Regions from separate parts of the Homo sapiens genome. Here regions 1, 2 and 3 are each reported to be linked to region 4. The links are microRNA targets in miRTarBase. Many come from high-throughput screens and were not tested one by one. Region 4 holds a microRNA gene; each other region holds the end of a gene's coding sequence.
Evidence for each region. Region 4 holds the annotated microRNA hsa-miR-545-3p (UCAGCAAACAUUUAUUGUGUGC, at 3,110-3,131, opposite strand). A microRNA usually pairs through its seed, bases 2 to 8, with sites in the 3' UTR of a target mRNA and lowers its output. Matches are read on the target gene's strand: a 7mer-m8 pairs with bases 2 to 8, a 7mer-A1 pairs with bases 2 to 7 and ends in A, and an 8mer does both.

Region 1 (5,000 bases), not on the chromosome of region 4:
AGGTTTATTCTTTGTATTTTTGAGACAGGGTCTCGCTCTGTCGTGTAGGCTGGAGTGCAGTGACATGATCATGGTTCACTGCAGCCTTGAACTCCTGGGCTCAAGCGATCCTGCCACTTCAGCCTCCCAAACAGCTGGGATTATAAGCACACACCACCACTGTACCCAGTGAATTTTTATGTTTTATTTACTTTTATTTTTATTGTTGAGACAGTCTCACTGCTGCCCAGGCTGGAGTGCAGTGGTGTGATCTTAAATGTCTGCAACCTCTACCTCCCAGGCTCAGGTGATCCTCCTGCCTCAGCCTCCCAAAGTGTTGGGATTACAGGCGTGAGCCATTGTGCTGGGCCAAATTTCGATAATTGTATTTTCTACTTAGAAAAAACTAGGTTGATGGACTTAGGGCGAGGGAACCTTTGCAGCACAGTGCCTTAGGCAATTTGCTTTTTCTTTACCATATAGAGTTGGAATGGAAACTGTCTGAATCTGGAGCAATTATGACAGACCTGGAGGAAAACCCTAAGAAGCCGATTGAAGACGTGTTGCTGTCCTCAGTGCGGCGCTCTGTCCTCATGAAGAGGGACAGCGATTCCGAGGGTGACTGAGGCTACAGCTTCTATCACATGCCGAACTTTCTTGTGACAAATTGTCTGGATTTTTTAAAAAAGGAAAAAGCAAGAATGAATCCTTGTGGTTTTTAGTTTTGTATAAATTATGTTTCAAATCTTTACATTTTGGAAATAATCATTGCTGGAGATTCTGTTAAATATTTTGGAACTCTTTTTTTTTTTAAATTATAGTATTTCCTCTAAAAAAAATTAAAACCAGCCATTTGTATGGCAAATGTCTGTTTTCCTCATTTATATTTTAAGTAAGCCATAAAACCTAGTCACTATTTTTTGACATATAACTATAAAAAGAAATACAGTTTTAAATGTGAATAAATTATACAGTGGAAAATTGCAGACTAAGCCTTATAGATACATTGTTTATTTTTATTTTATAAAGAGAGCAGTGAGATTATTAAACTACAGGAATGGTCTCTAGGACAAAAGAATGTTAGTATTGAAGAAACAGACAATTTTTGTGAAACATTCCCTTATTGAAGCAATAACTGAAAGTTTCCAGTTTACTGCCATATTTGGTTAAATGTGTTTTCTTGTTAAAATAGTTTATCTCAGACTGTTAACTAATTTTTTTTTTTTTTTGAGATGGAGCTTTTCTGTGTTGCTGAGGCTGGAGTGCAGTGGCACAATCTCAGCTCACTGCAACCTCCACCTCCCGGGTTCAAGCAATTCTCCTGCCTCAGCCTCCTGAGGAGCTGGGATTACAGACGTGCACCATCACGCCCATCTAATTTTTGTACTTTTAGCAGAGACGGAGTTTCATCATGTTGGCCGGGCTGGTCTCGAACTCCCAACCTCAAAACTCCTGATCCACCCGCCTCGGCTTCACAAAGTTTTGAGATTACAGGTGTGAGCTACCATGCCTGGCCTGTTAACTAATTTTGATTACTATAAGAAGACATTAAATTTATGGAAATATATAAGCATACACATAAATAAACTGTTAATAAACTCATTTTGTGGTTCATAAGTACGATCACGTATGTGAGATGTGCCCCCCTCAAATATCGTTAGGCTGTTGGCACATTACCCATATGACATGAAAAAACAACGTATCAAGATGTTTTGTGAGCCAGATCCTGTATTTCTCACTTAACAAACATTGATACTGAACAATTAGGAAATATTATTTTCTGATATTTGTGTTGAATGATGTATTACTTAGTGCTGGTTTGAATCTGAAATAAGAATCAGCATGGATTTCTTTTAGATTATGTTGTAAAATTTATTTTTGCTTTAATTCAAAGAATGACAAGCAACTTGGACCCATTTTATCAGAAGTATCTGTCTTAGATATTTGGATTCCACCCCCTCCTTTTTTTTTTTTTTTTTTTTAAATAGAGATGGAGTCTCCCTGTGTTACCCAGGCTGGTCTTGAGCTCCTGGGCTCAAGTAATCCTGCCATCTTCGACTCCCAAAATGTTGGGATTACAGGTGTGAGTCACTGCACCCCGCCCACATACACTAGAGCCAGCACTGCCAATAACATATTCCCTGGTGGTGTACTTTGAAAGTGTTTCATGGAATTGCAGGGTTGGAACAAATTTGGTCAGTCCTCTTACTTGGATGCTGGTTCCGTGGGGTTTGTAGGAGAGCTACCTTCTTAGATTTTGGTCTTGGTAGCTGACATGAGATCTTGAGGGAAGAGCAAAGGTGGAAAGTTCAATTCTGCATGTGCCTGAGAGCCTTAATGTGCACATTTACAAAGAAAAAAAGGTGGTGCATGAACAGGGGGCAGCGTCCACAGTGACAGATAAGAGCTTGAGTCCACTATGAAGCCCACACAGGATCTAATTCTAAATTATTAGCTGTGCCACTTCAATCAAAGTGTGAAAACTGCACCTCATAATTTTGTCTGCACACCAGATGAAGGCATTTAGTTCGAGCACAGCAAAAGCTCAGGTGCCTGTGGCATTGGCAAATGAGCCCTGATTAATTCTCGGAGACTTCCCTGTAATACTATTATCTTCTTTCTAATTCCTTTGGCACATTAGTGATACGACAGAGGTGTAAGACTTGGTGCTTAAGCACTGAGTTCCCCCAGTTCCACAGCAGGAACACAGCAGTGACCAGTGGGGGACACAAGGACACCTGGAAGCTGTCTTCTGTGCTTGGAGGGAAGGGTTGTGGGGAAAGGTTAAGCCGGTGCTAGGTAGCCACCCCCCCGCCCCCACTTTTTTTTTTTTTTTTTTGAGACAGGGTCTCCAGTTGCCCAGGCTGGAATGCAGTGGCATGATCTCATCTCACTGCAGCCTCAACTTCCCAAGTTCAAGCGATTCTCCCACCTCATCCTCCTGAGTAGCTGGGACTACAGGTGAGCACCACCATACCAGGCTAATTTTTTTTTTTTTTTTTTTTTTGTATTTTATGTTGAGACAGAGTTTCACCATGTTGCCTGCCTGGTCTCAAACTCCTGGGCTCAAGCGATCCACCCGCCTCAGCCTTCCAAAGTGCTGGGATTACAGTTGTGAGCCACTGTGCCCGGCTGGGGTAGCCCTTTCTTAAGTGATTGGTGGGAAATGGTTCCAGAAAATTGGGATAATAAATGATTGGGAATAGTGAAATTGATAGGATTGTATAATCAAATACTTCCTTCTTTTGTGGAGGAGAGAAAGGATGTGGATAGATGACATACACCTCCTTCATTGCACACCTAACTTCACCTTCTCACGCCCTGAGTCATTGCTTCTGCAGAGACCTACAGCTGAGCCGCTTCCTGGTGGTTCAGAAGGACTTCAGAAAGTTGCGCTGGGCTGGGCGAGGTGGCTGATGCCTGTAATCCCAGCACTTTGGGGGGCCAAGAGGGGCAGATCACCTGAGGATAGGAGTTTGAGACCAGCCTGGCCAACATGGTGAAACCCCAACTCTACTAAAAATACAAAAAATTAGCAGGGCATGGTGGCACAACGCCTGTAATCCCAGCTACTTGGGAGGCTGAGGCAGGAGAATCACTTAAACCCGGGAGGTGGAGGTTGCAGTGAGCCAAGCACACCACTGCACACTCCAGCCTAGGTGCCAGAGTGAGACTCTGTCTCAAAAAAAAAAAAAACAACAAAAAAAAAAAACAGTTCTGCTGGCTATGAAAGGCATCTATGAGAGAGATGGAAGGGCAATTTAGAAGGGTGTCCCTCTGTCATCAGGGAGGGCCAAAAGTTTTTTTTTTTTTTTTTTTGGCATTTATTACCTCCAGCTTTAAACTCAACCTTCTTATATAATCCCAAATATATATATATATATATATATATATTTTTTTTTTTTTGAGACGGAGTCTTGCTCTGTTGCCCAGGCTGGAGTGCAGTGGCGTGATCTTGGCTCACTGCAAACTCCGCCTCCTGGGTTCACACCATTCTCCTGCCTCAGCCTTCCGAGTAGCTGGGACTACAGGCGCCCTCCACCACGCCCCACTAATTTTTTTGTTGTTGTTGTATTTTTAGTAGAGATGGGGTTTCACCGTGTTAGCCAGGATGGTCTTGATCTCCTGACCTCGTGATCCACCAGTCTCGGCCTCCCAAAGTGCTGGGACTACAGGTGTGAGCCACCGCGCCCAGCCTATAATCCCAAATCTTGACCAACTACCTTTCAGGTATGGCAGGCAACAAGTGTTGTGACTGCAGCGCCTGCGTGAGAAACATGCTCCCATGAAAGGGGCCGGGTACAGTGACTCACACCTGTAATCCCAGCACCTTGGGAGGCCGAGGTGGGTGGATCACCTGAGGTCAGGAGTTCCAGGCCAGCCTGACCAACATGGTGAAACCCCATCTCTACTAAATACAAAAATTAGCTGGGCATGGTAGCGCCCTATAATTCCAGCTACTTGGGAGGCTGAGGCAGGAGAAGTGCTTGAACCTGGGAGGTGGAGATTGCAGCGAGCCAAGATTGCGCCACTGCACTCCAGCCTGGGCAACAAGAGTGAAATTTTGTCTCCAAAAAAAAAAAAAGAAAGTGCTTTTGTCCTGCTTACAGAAACCAGCTATTACTCACAGATATAACCTTAGAGACAGGTGGCTGTCAGTCTCAAGTGAAGATGTGCCTGTTTCCAAGTCCCCTCCCTCCCTCTCTGCTTTTGACCACATTCTCTACCCCATTCTTTGCTTCAGTAATCATCCGTCTTGATTTCCGCTTCTCCCTGGACATGGGGCCTTCAGGTAGTAACAGTGTTAGGGTCCTGTGGCAGAGAGTGCTGGTTGCCCACCAGTATCCAGGATTCTCCCCCTCTACTCCAGTGGCAATGGGACCCGCTGGAAGAGTAAACCCCGGCCTCTCTTGAGCTGTGGGTGGTTGGCTGGGAGTTCAGTTCTGGGCAAGCTGCTACTAGGAGGAACAGACAACTGTCATGTGCCCTTTGTGGGCTTAACCCCCTTCCTTCTACTTTCT
Region 2 (5,000 bases), not on the chromosome of region 4:
GGGAGAAGAAAAGCACAGACTGGTGAACATAAGTTACTGAAAAAGGGTTGACTGCATTCTATATCTGGCACAGGAAAAGAAAAATTCAAACAGCTGTGAAACCATTATATTTACACCACGATACTCTTACATGAACCTTGACTTTCCTACAGCAACAGTTTCATTCACAAAAAATACATAAAAGATTGGAAAGCTTTGGGGTAGCACCAGTGACAGCTAGCTGTCATTGAATAGTTTTAATTTTTTCCTAGAGGCAAAATTTAGAGAAAACTTAAAGAAGCAATTTATAGAAATGATTCTATTTCATGATTTTGCCTTTGTCAGCTGCTATGGAAATGGTGCAAGCAGAAATATAAATATCCATTCTGCATCAAGTAAGTTTCTATTTCTTTTTTCTCAAAGGGTAGAAATGGTACATCTCAATTTTTGTAAGGCTTCTGAGGATTAAGGGCAGCTCATCGCTCAGGACTTGACAATCTCTAAAGGAGCTCCTGGACTCTTTCACCACAAGGATAGATGGAGCCACTCCTATCCACAACTCATAGCAAGGATCTCTATGCATCTAGATTTTAATGCCAACGGTTTCTTGGCTTCCTGACTTGACATGCACCATGCACAAAGAGCAAGGTACTGACTGGTCTAAAGCCACTCTCCCCGGACACTGCTAACTCTAGCTAACCATCTCACAGACATCCTGCCTCTGATCATAAGATGGTCCCTGGAAGGAAGCATAAACACTTCCCAAATACTAGAACAGACAGCCCAAAGTGCAAGTTCTACTAATGGGAGAGTAAATGAATCACCTCTGTGTACAGAGAATGGCACAGGAAATTGTTATGAGTATAAAACCATATCTCCCCTTTCTTAATCACTTGTTATTATCTAACAAAGGTAGATACTTTTGAGAAGACCTCACCAACTACATAAGTATGTCCTATAAATTGTCTTGAAAACATATTCCCATGTTTAAAGATTACTTTGAAGAACCAAAGTTGAATGTTCAAAAATAAAAACTATTCTTACCAAGTTTCCCAAGCCCAAATCCCTGGAGAATTCTAGAAACCAGTTTTGTTGGTTTCTAGTATTTCAGTATTCAGTATTTCAGCTGCATCGAGCCCCCCTCAGGTGAGCTAGTGGGAGTTCCCCGACTCTATCATTATGTTCCTCATTTTCTTTCCTTCTCCTGAGGAAGTCTTCAGTTATTTCCATAGCAACTTGTGATAATGTCCTAAATGATCACATTTTTTGAATAGCACATATATTATTGGGACCTACTTTTTCTTTCTTTTAAACAATATCTTCGATAATAAAGAAAAGGGGACCGGGCGGGATAGCTCACGCCTGTAATCCCAGCACTTTGGGAGGCTGAGGCAGGTGGATCACCCAAGGTCAGGAGTTCAAGACCAGCCTGGCTAACACGGTAAAACCCCTTCTCTACTAAAAATACAAAAAATGAGTCAGCCATGGTGGCTGACCCAGCTACTCAGGAGGCTAAGGCAGGAGAATCGCTTGAACCTGGGAGGCAGAAGTTGCAGGGAGCTGAGATCGCGCCACTGCACTGCCTAGGCAACAAGAGAGAAATTGTCTCAAAAAAAAGAGAGAAAGAAAAGGGAGTAATCTTTAAAAATGAACTTCTGTTAAAAAGTAATTATCATGCTTTATACAAAACAGCACATTTACTAATTTACTAGATAGAATTCATTCCAGAACCACTGTCCAGACCAAACAAACAAATGGGAACATAGAGCACATAAAATAGATCATACACAGTTTAAACATAATTTTCATAGCCAGAATTGTCATGTTGGGCAAAAAATGGTAAATCAATCCTTATACGGCTATATGAAAATTATAGGTAAACATAAAAACAGGCATATGTTTAAGTCAGGTTAGATTTAACTAGGCACTGGAATGAATGAAAACTGATTATATTCCGTTGGATTCCAAATTTCTACCTTATTGGGAAAGTAGAGTACATCATTCTAGCCGAGGGATGAGAGGGCAGGCAGATGAGGATAGCCACACAGGTATACGCAGTGTTGCCTGATGATTAAACCTGACAACTATTTTGGGAACTGAGATTTCAGATACACTATTTAGAATTTAGACTGGCAGCTTCCAAAGATTACTGTTCACTTGAGTTTGTAAACTGGAACCTCTATAAACTTTAGTGCACCTGATCTGGCTCTAGAGTACACTTTACAATGCATTTAAAAATAAAAACAAACAAACAACAAACTTCCACAGATTGCCCTTTCGGGATGTGTCATTTTTAGATGCTCATTCTCCATTTGGTGCTACCATATAAACCCCTTGAAAAGTTCAGGGGATTCTTTCTGATAATGATCAGAAAAGGGTGAGGCCTGGGATATAGCGGGAGCAGCAAAAAAAAAGTTACTCTCCTCTTACTGAAGATACTCTTCTGAGAACTTCCATTGTCCCTTAGGAGGAAGGAATGGAATATGGAAGTTCCAGAAGATACTGCTGCCTTCCGAAGATAGTTACAACAGGATCATAACTATGAACCCTAAGATTACTTTTTTTTTTTTTCCTTTTTTTGAGACAGAGTCTTGCTCTGTCGCCCAGGCTGGAGTACAGTGGTGCAATCTTGGCTCACTGCAAGCTCCGCCTCCCGGGTTCACCCCATTCTCCTGCCTCAGCCACCCACGTAGCTGGGACTACAGGCGCCCGCCACCACGCCCGGCTAATTTTTGTATTTTTAGTAGAGACAGGGTTTCACCGTGTTAGCCAGGATGGTCTTGATCTCCTGACCTTGTGATCCACCCGCCTCAGCCTCCCAAAGTGCTGGGATTACAGGCGTGAGCCACCGTGCCTGGCTGAGATTACTTTTTTATGTAGCACCTGCCTTGCTTCTGTGTCTTATAAAGACACAGAATTCTTACAAAGCTATGAAACAGAGTCAGGAAAAATTACTCATGGCACTTAAAGATGTTTAGAGACTGTAAAATGCCTTCATTTTTTTTTTCTCAATGCCCCTGTGAGGTAGGTGTCTGTGGGGAAAAAGCTGAGGCACGGAGGGGTTAAGTCTGCTCACCTTTTCATTGCATGATGAGCCAGTGGTCCAGCTAGCAGGACCAGGTGTCCCAGCTCCCTAAACTTTATTCACCCTGCTTCTCAGAAGGCTTATTTATGTTACACAACAAATACAGCAGGGGAAAGTTTTCTTTTCATACATTTTAACTAGTTGGCTATTTCTTATTCTCACCTTGAACATAAGTTATCTCAGATAAAACCAAATAAAAACAAAACAAAAAAATCAATATTGCCTAACAGTCTGTGTCAAATGCAGCCTATTCTGCACTAGTGATTGAAAAAGCACAGAATATGATTCAAGTAGAAGTATTTGTGGGTGCTATGGTGTTCCTGTTGACTCAAGCCAGGCTGTGAGTAAAGTGTCGCTTTAGACACTACCCACTGTACTTTGTAAGAACTTCTTTGGCCTGACACAAGGGAATAAATCTACCACCCCTGTTTCATGGTGAAACCATATTCTGAAAGATATTCTACACATGCTGGCCCTGCCTGGAAAGGGGACTCTCAGCCGTGTGATGTGTATTACCGAGTTCATGCACAACTCTTTGAAGCTGGACATGAAGGTCACAGTCTCCTGACATAAAGCTCACAGGACAGTTCACACTACGGACAGAGGGGCAATACCACAGGGTACATGCACTAGCACCATGCCACAGAAGTCAAAGAGAAGGACAAGAAGCCACCACACAAGCATCTTAGAGTCCCATCTGGTATGCCATTTGCAGAGGCTACCTCTGGTAAGGGGAAGACTGAAGAGGTCCTGTACTCCTTTCCATAATAAGAAGAAGGATCAAAACAGAGCACTCATTGCTGGCTGCTTTGAGCATACCGCCTATCCAAATTTCACCCCTACATAAGTTGGTAACTTTCCTTGTAGATATTCAAAGATAATATATGTCATTTCTTCATCAAGAGAGAATCATGTCAGGCAAAATTCAAAAGTTAGTTACAAGACGTGGATGCAGGGCTCCAAGGCAATTTACACCACTACTCTTGGAATCGAATTCATGAGTACTCAGGGCACTAGCTTTTAGACATGCAATACTTCTTTTTGAGACTTTTCTTTCCCCTATAGTATCTAAAATGTAAATTCCACTCATATCATGACCCCTAAGTCTAATGGAAGATCAGATATTTGGTTTCAGGGTCTGAAGTAAATCACAATACCAAATCAGATGCATGTATCTATGAATGCTTTTTGCCTTGATATTAATGCAAACGCCTGCCCTCCCAAGGCCTGTCCTCCCCTTGAGCTCATCTTCCAGGGGGCTGAGCCTGCTCCGTCCTCTGCATATGCAGGACCAGAGGGAATCATTCCAACTCAGAGTTTCACTGGGATACTAGGATACAGCATAGCAGCAATTCATGCACTTTATTTCTAAAAACCAAAGCTCAGGCTGAGCTGGTCACTGTGCAAGATGAACCAGCAGGACATTCTCGCCTCGAATGAAAATCTGATTTATGTGTCGAGTGAATACCTGCTGGTAATCCACTTTGGGCTTTCGCTTTTTCTTACGGGACTGGCCTCTGGAAAGGGTGGTAGCCCTGGAAAAGGTACCTCCCACACTGGAGCCGTCTGTCCGTGTAGTCCTCCCTGACAGCTCTGACCTGGACTCCTCCCTTGCAGAGGCCTGCAGGGAAGAAGGGACAGAGCGGGAACGCTTGTGTGAGCCCCGGCCAGTGTCTGCTCTTCCCCACACTGAAGCCAACTTCCAAGTGGATGTCTGTGAGTATCTAGACAGAGTGGAATCTTCAACTGCAGACTTAGAATCTGCTTCCTTCTTGGAGGAATCTTGAAGTTTCAGCCGATCAAATAGCTATAAAGCAAACAATGATAAATATTAGCCTTCTCTTTAGCCTTCATCACCCTCTTTCAACATACAGAAAAAGACCAAATTCTTTAATTATGTTCTGTGGACTCCTTGCTTTGCAATTTTTTAAAAGTT
Region 3 (5,000 bases), not on the chromosome of region 4:
GCCCAGGAGTTCTAGATCAGCCTGAGAAACATGATGAAACTCCATGTATACAAAAAGTGCAAAAATTAGCCAGGCATGATGGTGCACGCCTGAAGTCCCAGCTACTTGGGAGGCTGAGGTGGGAGGATCACTTGAGCCCAGGAAGTCAGGGCTGCAGTGAACCATGATCACGTCACTGCATTCCAGCCTGGGTGACAGAGCGAGACCCTTTCTTTTTCCCAAAGAAAAAGTGGATTGTCAGAGTTCTAGTCTATGAAAAAGCATCTATTTGCCTCACCTAAATTTAACCCTTTTGTAGCTTTTTATTCAAAGTGGAATAATATAGAATGCTATATAGACTATAACAAATATGCCCTTAATATACTCCATTCTATTTAATAATAGGAACTTCTTTTCTTTTATTTCAAGATACAAAATAACTTACAGAAGTTGCTTGAGAATGGTGACTGATCGACCAGATTGCTTGGGCCATCGGAATACCTCATGTTTCCCTTTGAAGAAGGTGCTTCCTGAGGCGTTTTGTTTGAGTGCACCCTGCTGGTCAGAGGTGCAAGCAGATGAGAATCCAGACATTGCATGTGGAGGTCTCCAGCTCAGGAAAGTGAGGAGGGAAATAATTTTGGTTCTTGTGCAATAAAAGTTGACCTTGACTCTCTGAGGAAGATTTTGCTGCTTTTGCCTGAAGAAAACAGACCCATCTCTGGAGGTCTCAGGAAGGGCCCAGCGAACACACTCTCTTGGATAATTACCACGATGGCGTCAGCAAACACTCCACCCTGTGCCTTTTTAGTCCTTCCCGCCCTCCTGCCTCTCCCTTACACCCCTCTTAACGACTTTCAAACTAAAGGATACATCATATACTGACAAACTCAATGTGGTCCTTTCAAGAATTAGCCATGAGTCTCAAAAAGGCAATAAATGGCTCTAAGTGGACAGGTTTGCTTCAAACAAGTAACATCTACATTTTGTCTTTTTTTTTTCAGTTCTCCTGTTATGTTCTGGTTGAAATCACCTGTGTGTCTTAATTTCTCAATTCCTTTTTGGCAAGAATATCAAGCAAGGTGAATTTAACATTATGTTTATGTTTTGTTTTGTTGCTGTAACTAATAGTTAATTGGACTGATTCTTACCCAGCCCTGGTCAAGAATCTGTGAGGCATGTGACTGAAGTACTAAATTAAACTTATTTTGAAACCAAACCTAATTTTTAAGCCAAAAGGTGTAATAGTGATTTAATACAGGATGAAAAACACTGAATTTTTAAGACTGTAGGTGGACTATGTTAGTAGTTTTCAAGCAGGATGTCTGTATTCAGCATTCAATAATGCTAAAATCCCTTTCAGCATGAAATTTGTATGTTTTTATCCTTTGCTGACTAAAATAAAATAACTGGTGGTTTGCTAACTATTTACCATATGGGTTGGCTGGTTTTTATTAATAATTGTTTAGGGTATCATAAGATCTGTAAGTACAAAGGATATTCTGTTTCTATCTGCAATGCATTTGATAATCATTTCTATGAAATGTATTTTATTTAATCAGATAAGCTAATAAGCGAATTGGTTACATCGTTTGTATCTGTTGGCCTAGTGGACAGCTGTGCCTGGTGCACCTCTGGCTTTTAATAAATACTCATTGGTTGAAACACCCTGCTAACACTGTGTTTTGTCAGTTCGTAAATTCCTTTAACCAAGACTTAACTATGCTTTTTAACTCTTTTTCCACCTGCCATCTACTACTACCAACTCACTTATACTTCCTTCCTCCCAAGTAATCATTTCAAAACTAAAAAAGGATTTAAGTTCTTGGGTTACAACGGTTTAAAGGAAAGAAAATGAACTTTGAAGTCAAAAAAAAAAGAAAAAAAAAAAAGACAATGCTTCATTCCTCAGTCCACATTTATGAGTTATGTGACCTTTAGCAAAATATTTGGCCATATCCCCCCATTTTATTGATGAGGTTGAAAGTACCAGTAAAAAGTATCAGTGTGAGGATTAAATGTGATAATGTCAGCCAGGTGCAGTGGCTCATGCCTATAATCCCAGCATTCTCGGAGGCCAAGGCAGGAGGACTGCTTGAGCTCAGGAGGTTGTGATCAGCCTGGACAACGCAGCAAGATCCCATTTCTACTAAAAATAAAAATAAATTAGCCAGGTGTGGTGATGCATGCCTATAGTCCCAGCTACTCAGGAGAATTGCTGAAGTCTGGGAGACTGAGGCTGCAGTGAGCCACGATCACACCATTGCACCCTAGCCTGAGTGACAAAGCAAGACCTTGTCTCAGTCAATCAATCAGTCAATGTGATGATGTCTCTAAAGCACATAGCCATGTCAGGCAAGTAGTATGCTTTCATAACAGCTACAATAGTCATTATTTTAAAAAATATTTTTGCACACCTGTAGTACCAGCTACTTGGGAGGCCGAGGCAGGAGAATCACTTGAACCCAGGAGGTGGAGGTTGCAGTGAGCCCAGATCATGCCACTGCCGCTCCAGCCTGGGCGACAGAGCGAGACTCTGTCTCAAAAAAAAAAAAAATTTATGTCTGACATTACAGTTTTATTAAAGTTCAGTGTCAGCACTTTCTATTCAAAACCCATTAGTGATTCAAGAGTGGGTCAGCCACCTCTGGAGAACAACTTTATAACCATATCAAGAGCTTTAAAAAGCCTCAGATTTCACTCAGTTTTAGTAATCTGCCATCTAGGAATTTATCCTAAAGCAACAATCAGAAGTATAGTAAAGTTTATATACAAGAATATTCTTTGAAACCTCTGACAGCAAAATATTAGAGAGTCTAAATATTCAATAGAAGAACAGTTAAATGATGCAGTTATTTAAAATTGCATTGTCAAAGAAAGGCATAGAAAATATCGAAAATTGCATTAAAAGACATAAAACTATAGGGTATGATCCCAACTTTAAGAAGAAAACCCTCAATGTGTGTGTGTATATATATATATATATATATTTATATGTATATGCATACATACATACACACAGAAGCCCACACACCTTTTCTGTATCCTACAGGTTTTGTATAATGAAGTCGTTACCTTTTTTTAATCAGATAAGTTAATTTACAAGATTAGGTGGCTCTCTGCAAGGAATCAGAACTCACAACTCCCACCCCCCACAACATGGCTGCTAGTTCTTTAACTGAAACTTTATTTTCCATCAACCACTACAGTTGACTCATCCAGAGCGAAAGACAGCTCCACCATTCCTAGGTTTAGTTATTGTTTCTTTGCGGATACTATTGTTTGTTTGGTTTTCCTTTACTAGCTTCCAAGTGAAAATCTGGTGCAGCTAGATCCGAATGGTGAAATCCAGGTTATAAGCCTGCATACTAACTACAAAGCGAGGGAAAGCAAGCATCTGGGATTTTTACGCCTCTACCAACTAGGTTATAAATGGGAATTCTAACATGGGGTTTCAGATGCTGAATGGCCAAAGTAATAGCAAATGTCCACAATATATTTGGCCCTTCAAAACGTGTAATCTTAAAAAGATTATCAGTTGTAATACTATTTCTATGCACTCTAATATTTTATAATATAATTAAATACATACTATTTTGGTGAATAGAAATTACCAATCTTCCATAAGCTGGAAATGCTATTATTATTATTGTTGCCCTCTCAAACTTTGTAAACATTTAAGATACCTTCCTATATATACTCCACAATACTCCAAAGCATTTCCCAGGTATTCATTTATGCAATTCCTTGAAACCAACCAAGATACTTTTTTTTTTTTTTCAGATAGGGTCTCACTCTATCATCGCCCAGGCTGGAGTACAGTGGCGCAATCTCGGCTCACTGGAACCTCTACCTCCCAACCTATCCTCTCGCCTCAGCCTCCCAAGTAGCTGGGACTACAGGTGCACACCACCACACCCAGCTAATTTTTTGTATTTTTAGTAGAGACAGGTTTTTCCATGTTGCCCAGGCTGGTGTTGAACTCCTGGGCTCAAACAATCCACCTACAAATGTGAGCCACCTCGCCCAGCCCAGAGACATTTTTTAAATGCCTTTTCCTTGCCTTACACAATTTCATAAATTCATGGAGTCAGGCCAAAACAAAAATTCTGACTTAAATATGAGTTATCTTTTATGCTATTTTGATTTGTATATCCTAACAATAGTAAAATTCAGGTGATGCTTTCTTATTTTTTTGTTTCTGGTGATCTAAAGGATATGGACACTAATGCATTATGGATAGCTCAGGTGATTTTACTCTCAAGCATTTTTTTAAGTCAAAATTCTACACATCAGTAATAGTTATACTGCCATTTGAGGTCATAACCTGACCCACTGACAAAGAAGCCCAGTGATATAATATTATTTTCATATGCTTCTTTTACACCTCTCCCTGCTAATTACCATCATGTTACCATATTCTTGCCAAAAAAAAAAAAAAAAAACACCAGAGTCGTTACATGAAGTATCTTTGATCACTGAATTTCCAGCACTTCTTTGTTGTGTCTAGATGCTAAGCCCTTTTCTAATTTGAAAAAAAAAAAACAAAAAACTGGAGACCTGATTCTGTTTATCTCTTGTAGTTTCTCTTATCTCTGTTTCTAACCACTCTATGTAGTGCCTCTTTTTTTCTGTCTACACACACACGGAGCATCCACCATACCAATAATCACAGTATGTGGTAATGAAAAGTGGAAGGGAAAAATGGCCCTTGCTTCTCACAGACAAACTCACTATCTCAATGGATCATTTTTGTTTTTTTGTTTTGTTTTGTTTTTGAGACAGTCTCACTCTGTTGCGCAGGCTGGAGTGCAGTAGTGCAATCTTAGCTCACTACAACCTCTGCCCCCGGGTTCAAGCAATTCTCCTGCCTCAGCCTCCTGAGTAGCTGGGATTACGGCACCTGCCACCATGCCCTGCTAATTTTTGTTTTTTTAGTAGAGATGGGGTTTCACCATGTTGGCCAGGCTGGTCTCGAACTCCTGACCTCAAGTGATCTGCCCGCCTCGGCCTCCCAAAGT
Region 4 (5,177 bases):
CAGCCAGAATCCCAGAAAAGTTTAACACTTGGGGTATGTTCATCCAACAACTTCCATGTACATACACAAACATGAATTCTTATTTTACAATGATTAGATGAAACTATACTATTGCCCTTTAGCCCTTTTTCAATTAATATACTGTATACTTCTTTCCAAGTCAAATATTTATCTTCAAGACTATTTTTATTTTTAATGGCTATGCTGTCCCATTACATGAATACACCAAAATGTATTTAACCAAGTTCCTATTCATGACTAGGTAAGTTTTTCCATTATTTACTGTTATGAACACCGTGAATATGCCCATATCTAAATCTTTTTTTAAATAATGTTAAACATATATTTGGGGGTATATCCCTATAAATGAATACAAATCTTACAGTGTAAGAGATTTGCAAAGATCAGTAAAACACATCTCTACCCTTGAGTTTAAATCAAAGGAGAGAGACACAAACAGGTAACATTTACCATTATCATGTCCATGGATAAAGATAAACAAAATTTCATGGTGCTTCCTAATTGAAACTGCAGCTGTTGCTAACAGAAAAGGCTCAAAGAATACTATTAGACAGTAGCCCAAATTAAAATTCCATTTGCTAGAATTCCAAAGTTATTCTAATGCTAAATATTGCCTCATTGGCATTTCAATATGACATTGTTGTTTCTCCTTTAGCAAGCCTTAAAGGAGAGAACCAAGCAGAAGCTGCTCAGAAAACCACCTACCCTAAAGGCAGAGAAGTGAGTAAGGTGCAGGGCAGTATATGACACTGGACCTGGACTTCCATCTTTCCTTCCCCCTACTATTTCCAGTAAACAACAGTGAGCTATAGCCATTTTCTTTCAGAAACAACGTGGATTCTCTCCCTGGGACTCTCATTCCTGCACAGATCTGCTTACACATAGTTGGGCTGTGCTGGTATTCATGCTGACTTAGAAGACAAAAATAAGAATGAAAAGAAGCTTTTTCAGCACCATGATGGGTCAGATACAGATGACATTAACACAGAAGACAGACAGATTTTTAAAACCTATTCAACAAAGATGAGTTACTGTGATAACACAAACAGTCCTGAATCTTATAGTAACATTTCAGTCACAGGCGCATATACAATGGTGGTCCCATAAGATAATAACACCACGTTTTTACTGTACCTTTTCTATGTTAGATATGTTTGGATATACAAATACTTACCACTGTATTCCAAATGCCTACAGTATTCAATACAGCAACATGCTGTACAGGTTTGTAGCCTAGGAGGAATAGGCTATACCATATAGCCTAGGTGTGTAGTAAGCTATACCATCTAGGTTTGTATAAGTACACTCCCCTATGATGTTCACACAACAACAAAATGACTTAATGATCCATTACTCAGAACATATCCTGTCTTTAAGCAACACATGACTGTATAGTTAAATGTTAATTATAAAATCTAGGTGTTGGGTACATGGCTTTTCACCGTACAATTCTTTCAACTTTTCTGTATGTATGTTTGACAACTTTCACAATACAATTTTGGGAAAAATCCAGCAAGCAGCTTTAAAAATATGGCTGTAAGACCTTTCCTTCTATTATATTTTATTCCTAGGATGATCCTATCCAACGAGATGAACCTATTCAGTGTTTCCTCCATTTTGTTTTAGATTTAGCTTTCTCAAATATGACTTTGAGCTCTCCGACTTTTTAATGAAGTGAAATGAATCAACATGTATTCATAGGCAGGTTACCAAGATAGTACATGTAAAGTTGGGGAGGCACAAGGGGAGGGGCTCTAAGCTCTTGGAAGTCTAGGCTCACTATCTGTATACATCTAAATAAATGAGTATTTCAGACACCCCACTTCTTCATTTAAAAATTAGTGTTAGGGACCCTCTAAACATTTGCCTCAGCTTACCTTTCTGCCTTATCTCACATTAAGTCCTTATTTCCCATATTCTCATTGCAAAGAACTGTGTAGGAAGGAGGGGGGCAAGGACGAAGGCACCAAAGCATGCTATGTCCACGTGCTTCAAGTTTGAATATAATAAAAGGTATTTCTAGAGTAGAGGTTCAAAGCTTGATGTTGAAGGGCAGGGTATAACTGACTGACTGCAGGACCCTGGGGGAGGTCTTATAATCTTCTACTTTAAAACATGTCTTAGCTGGCTTATCTGTAAAAGAGGAAAAAGACTTGTCACAAGCAATGACAAATGAAGTAAATAAATATGAATTTCTGGTCTGGTGAATGGAATGAGAAATGAAACCATCACTGTCGAGTGATGATCCAGAGTGGGCACAGATCTTTTTCTACAAAGGCTTTGTGGGCCACAATGTCTCCAATATATTTAATGGCAAAAACAGCAACTACTTTTGCACCAACCTAATAGCTACTTAATTGTGCCACTGGGCCGCAAAAGCGGCCCCAGGTAAAACATCGATGAATGAACATGGCTGTGTTCCAATATAGAATGGTATTTACAAAAACAGGTAGCCCATGGGCAATAAAGTTTGCCCACCCTTGGTTTAGAATATGGAGTCTGGTTGGGTGCAGTGGCTCACACCTGTAATCCCAGCACTCTGGGAGGCTGAGGGAGGTAGATCGCTTGAGTCCAGGAGTTCAAGAACAGCCTGGGCACCATAACGAGACCCCTTCTCTACGAAAAATACAAACATTAGCCAGGGGTGGTGGCACACACCTATAGTCCTAACTCAGAATGCTGAGGTGGAAGATCACCTGAGCCTAGGAGTTCGAGGCTGCAGTGACCCGTGTTCGCACCATTGCACTCCAGCCTGGGCAACAGAGTGAGAACCTGTCCCTTAAAAAAAAAAAAAAAAGAAAGAAAAATGCAAAGTCCTATCTAAGAATACTATTTGGATGATTACCTGGGCCCTGAGGATGAGGCCCCAATCTAACAGTTATCACTCAAGTCCCACCAAGAAAGCAAGTGTCAGCAATAGCAACAGTTGCAACATCTGTAAATATCAAGGACTGAAATCCAAACACAAAAATGGCATTGTCTCATGAGAAACTCTTAGGAAGATATATACAGAAATATCAAATTTCTGACCACATGCTTTTTGAAGAAACAGCTGACAATCCAGAGCCTGTGGAGCTCACTTTAGCAGGCACACAATAAATGTTTGCTGATGAGTCATTCATTTATTCATCTAATAAACATTTACTGAGGCCTACTAATGTGCCAGGCTGGGCTCTGGAGATGAAGACACCTTCCTTGCCCTCAAGGAGCTCACAGTCTAACTGATAACAGGAAGAGAGACAGGCATATACACAGACAATTACAATACAATCTGATAAGTGCTATAACACTTATCAGGTTGTATTATAATGGCCGATGTAAAATTTCTTCCCAGGGGGTGCTGCTCCAGGCTGCTGCTGGCTGTAACATCAAGAGAGGTGAGGAACAAATTATAGAAATCAAAGGTTAAATGCTTTTCGGTTATTTCAAATATTCAGGCTTTCCCTAACCCGTGGCCATAGACGGAATTGGGAACTAGACACTGGCATGATGTAAAATGGGACTTCCATGCACAGACTTCCAATAAAGGAACTTCTCAATCCCCTCCTCTAAAATATGAGCTTTTTTTTTTCCTTTTTGCTTATACTCCTCTTAACCTCCCCACCCTACTACCCACATGAGCCTGGTTTAATATCTACAGCTAGCAAAATGCTGAAAAATGGGAGCTTACAACTAACTGGATTAACCCAGTGTAACCGGATAGCAAAAAGCAGTAAGTAATAGCTCATTTGGCACTTCTAAATCCAATAATCCTCATCCTTCACTGGAAAAAAAAAGTTAGAATGTTATTAAATACAAAATAGATAATATACAGATCAGAGTAGGAATAAGTTAGAAAAGTTTATTTAATAAACATAATTAAACAGATTCTCTAAACTAGAAATAACATTCAGTTTCAGGAAACCAGAATTAGACCCCTCCAAGACCTTTGAGAATATCTAATTCACCTATGTATTATAAACAAGAAAAATGAAACAGAGAGATAACACACTCTGCCCACTCCCTTTTCAAAATCATGTGAGTGATAGTAACAGACTCCTTGAGGCAAGATTATTACTGTAATAGTTATTTGGTTCAGATGGTTTTATACAAAGATAAGATGGCATTTTTCTGTGCCTCATACCTTTCTTAATAATACCTAGGTTTTTACTGGCTTTTTTGTCTCTGACCAGCAAATAGGGCTGATAACATCAGCAAGTTGTTGACAGTTATACTGAGATCACTGTTTTGGGACCCAATGTCTCTATGAGGCTGTTATTTAATAAGCTTAACATACTATTTTCCCCTAAAGTTATTTCACTGCTCTTGCCTATACACTGTTCCTTTCTGCCAATTAGCCCACTCCTGGTGCCTTCTCACATGCTAGCGTGTTCCTATTAGCATTTCACATCCCCAAAGCATTTAACAGTATGTATAAATGTGGACACTTCAATATTGCCCATATCCTCCCTCAGACCACTCAGAAATATTTAAAATAAGACCAGTCCCTGAATGGATGGGGGAGAAGGGACCGCTGTTTTGTTTCTTGTCTAAATTAGTTTCTCATTAGGGACAAAATGTTGCCCTGTCTTCTCCCCATGCCCAGAGCCAGGAAGCACCACTGTTGTACAGTACTCAAAAGTGCTTTCCTTTTAGATAAAAAGAAATGGATTTCTGTTTAAAGGTCAGACAAGGCTGGGTAAGGTGGCTTATGCCTGTAATCCCAGCACTTTGGGAGGCGGAGGCAGAAAGATTGCTTGAGCCCAGGAGTTCGAGACCAGCCTGGGCAAGACCTCCACTCTAAAAATAAAAACAAAAATAAGATAGAGGTCAGACAAATGTTATCTCAAAATGGCTACCAAGAACCAGACATGTATCCACACAGCAGTTATATTTGGAATTGCAAACATTTCTTCAGACTCAATGGCAACAAATATTACTGGGAGCATATCTGCAACAAACGACATTTGCAACTTACAAATAACATTCAGGCACAAATTGAATAATTCACAAAAGGAAATAAGAGCTAGTAATTAAGATCTAAAAGTCCAGCCTCACTAATAATCAGAGAACTGTATCACAAAACAAAGATATCGGCCAGGTATGGTGGCTCACCCCTGTAATCCCAGCATTTTGGGAAGCCGGGGTGGGAAAATCACTTGAGCCCAGGAGTTCAA

Region 1: the mRNA of PDCL3 is a reported target of hsa-miR-545-3p. The part of its 3' UTR that is shown has no 7-base or 8-base seed match.
Region 2: the mRNA of LSM11 is a reported target of hsa-miR-545-3p. Seed matches in the 3' UTR shown: 7mer-m8 at 2,381-2,387.
Region 3: miRTarBase lists GRAMD2B as a target of hsa-miR-545-3p. Seed matches in the 3' UTR shown: 7mer-m8 at 666-672 and 8mer at 1,367-1,374.

The regions. Positions count from the first base shown.
Region 1 is chr2:100,575,892-100,580,891 of GRCh38, forward strand. PDCL3 (phosducin like 3) reads left to right here. Exons shown (of 6, transcript NM_024065.5): 6 at 463-848. The coding sequence ends at 605. It also overlaps the pseudogene LOC124906187. Among named protein-coding and RNA genes, the nearest start is that of PDCL3, 15 kb to the left of the region's middle.
Region 2 is chr5:157,754,725-157,759,724 of GRCh38, reverse strand. It overlaps LSM11 (LSM11, U7 small nuclear RNA associated), which reads right to left. Exons shown (of 4, transcript NM_173491.4): 4 at 1-4,871. The coding sequence ends at 4,461. Among named protein-coding and RNA genes, the nearest start is that of LSM11, 14 kb to the right of the region's middle.
Region 3 is chr5:126,492,507-126,497,506 of GRCh38, forward strand. GRAMD2B (GRAM domain containing 2B) reads left to right here. Exons shown (of 14, transcript NM_023927.4): 14 at 409-1,858. The coding sequence ends at 450. Among named protein-coding and RNA genes, the nearest start is that of GRAMD2B, 72 kb to the left of the region's middle. RefSeq lists an enhancer at 236-791.
Region 4 is chrX:74,284,017-74,289,193 of GRCh38, forward strand. It overlaps MIR545 (microRNA 545), which reads right to left and starts at 3,193; the gene lies at 3,088-3,193. All of the region lies in intron 1 of FTX (FTX transcript, XIST regulator), which reads right to left. MIR374A (microRNA 374a) reads right to left here and starts at 3,341; the gene lies at 3,270-3,341. It overlaps LOC124905199 (a long non-coding RNA gene), which reads right to left. Exons shown (of 2, transcript XR_007068266.1): 2 at 3,849-5,177. RefSeq lists an enhancer at 1-303.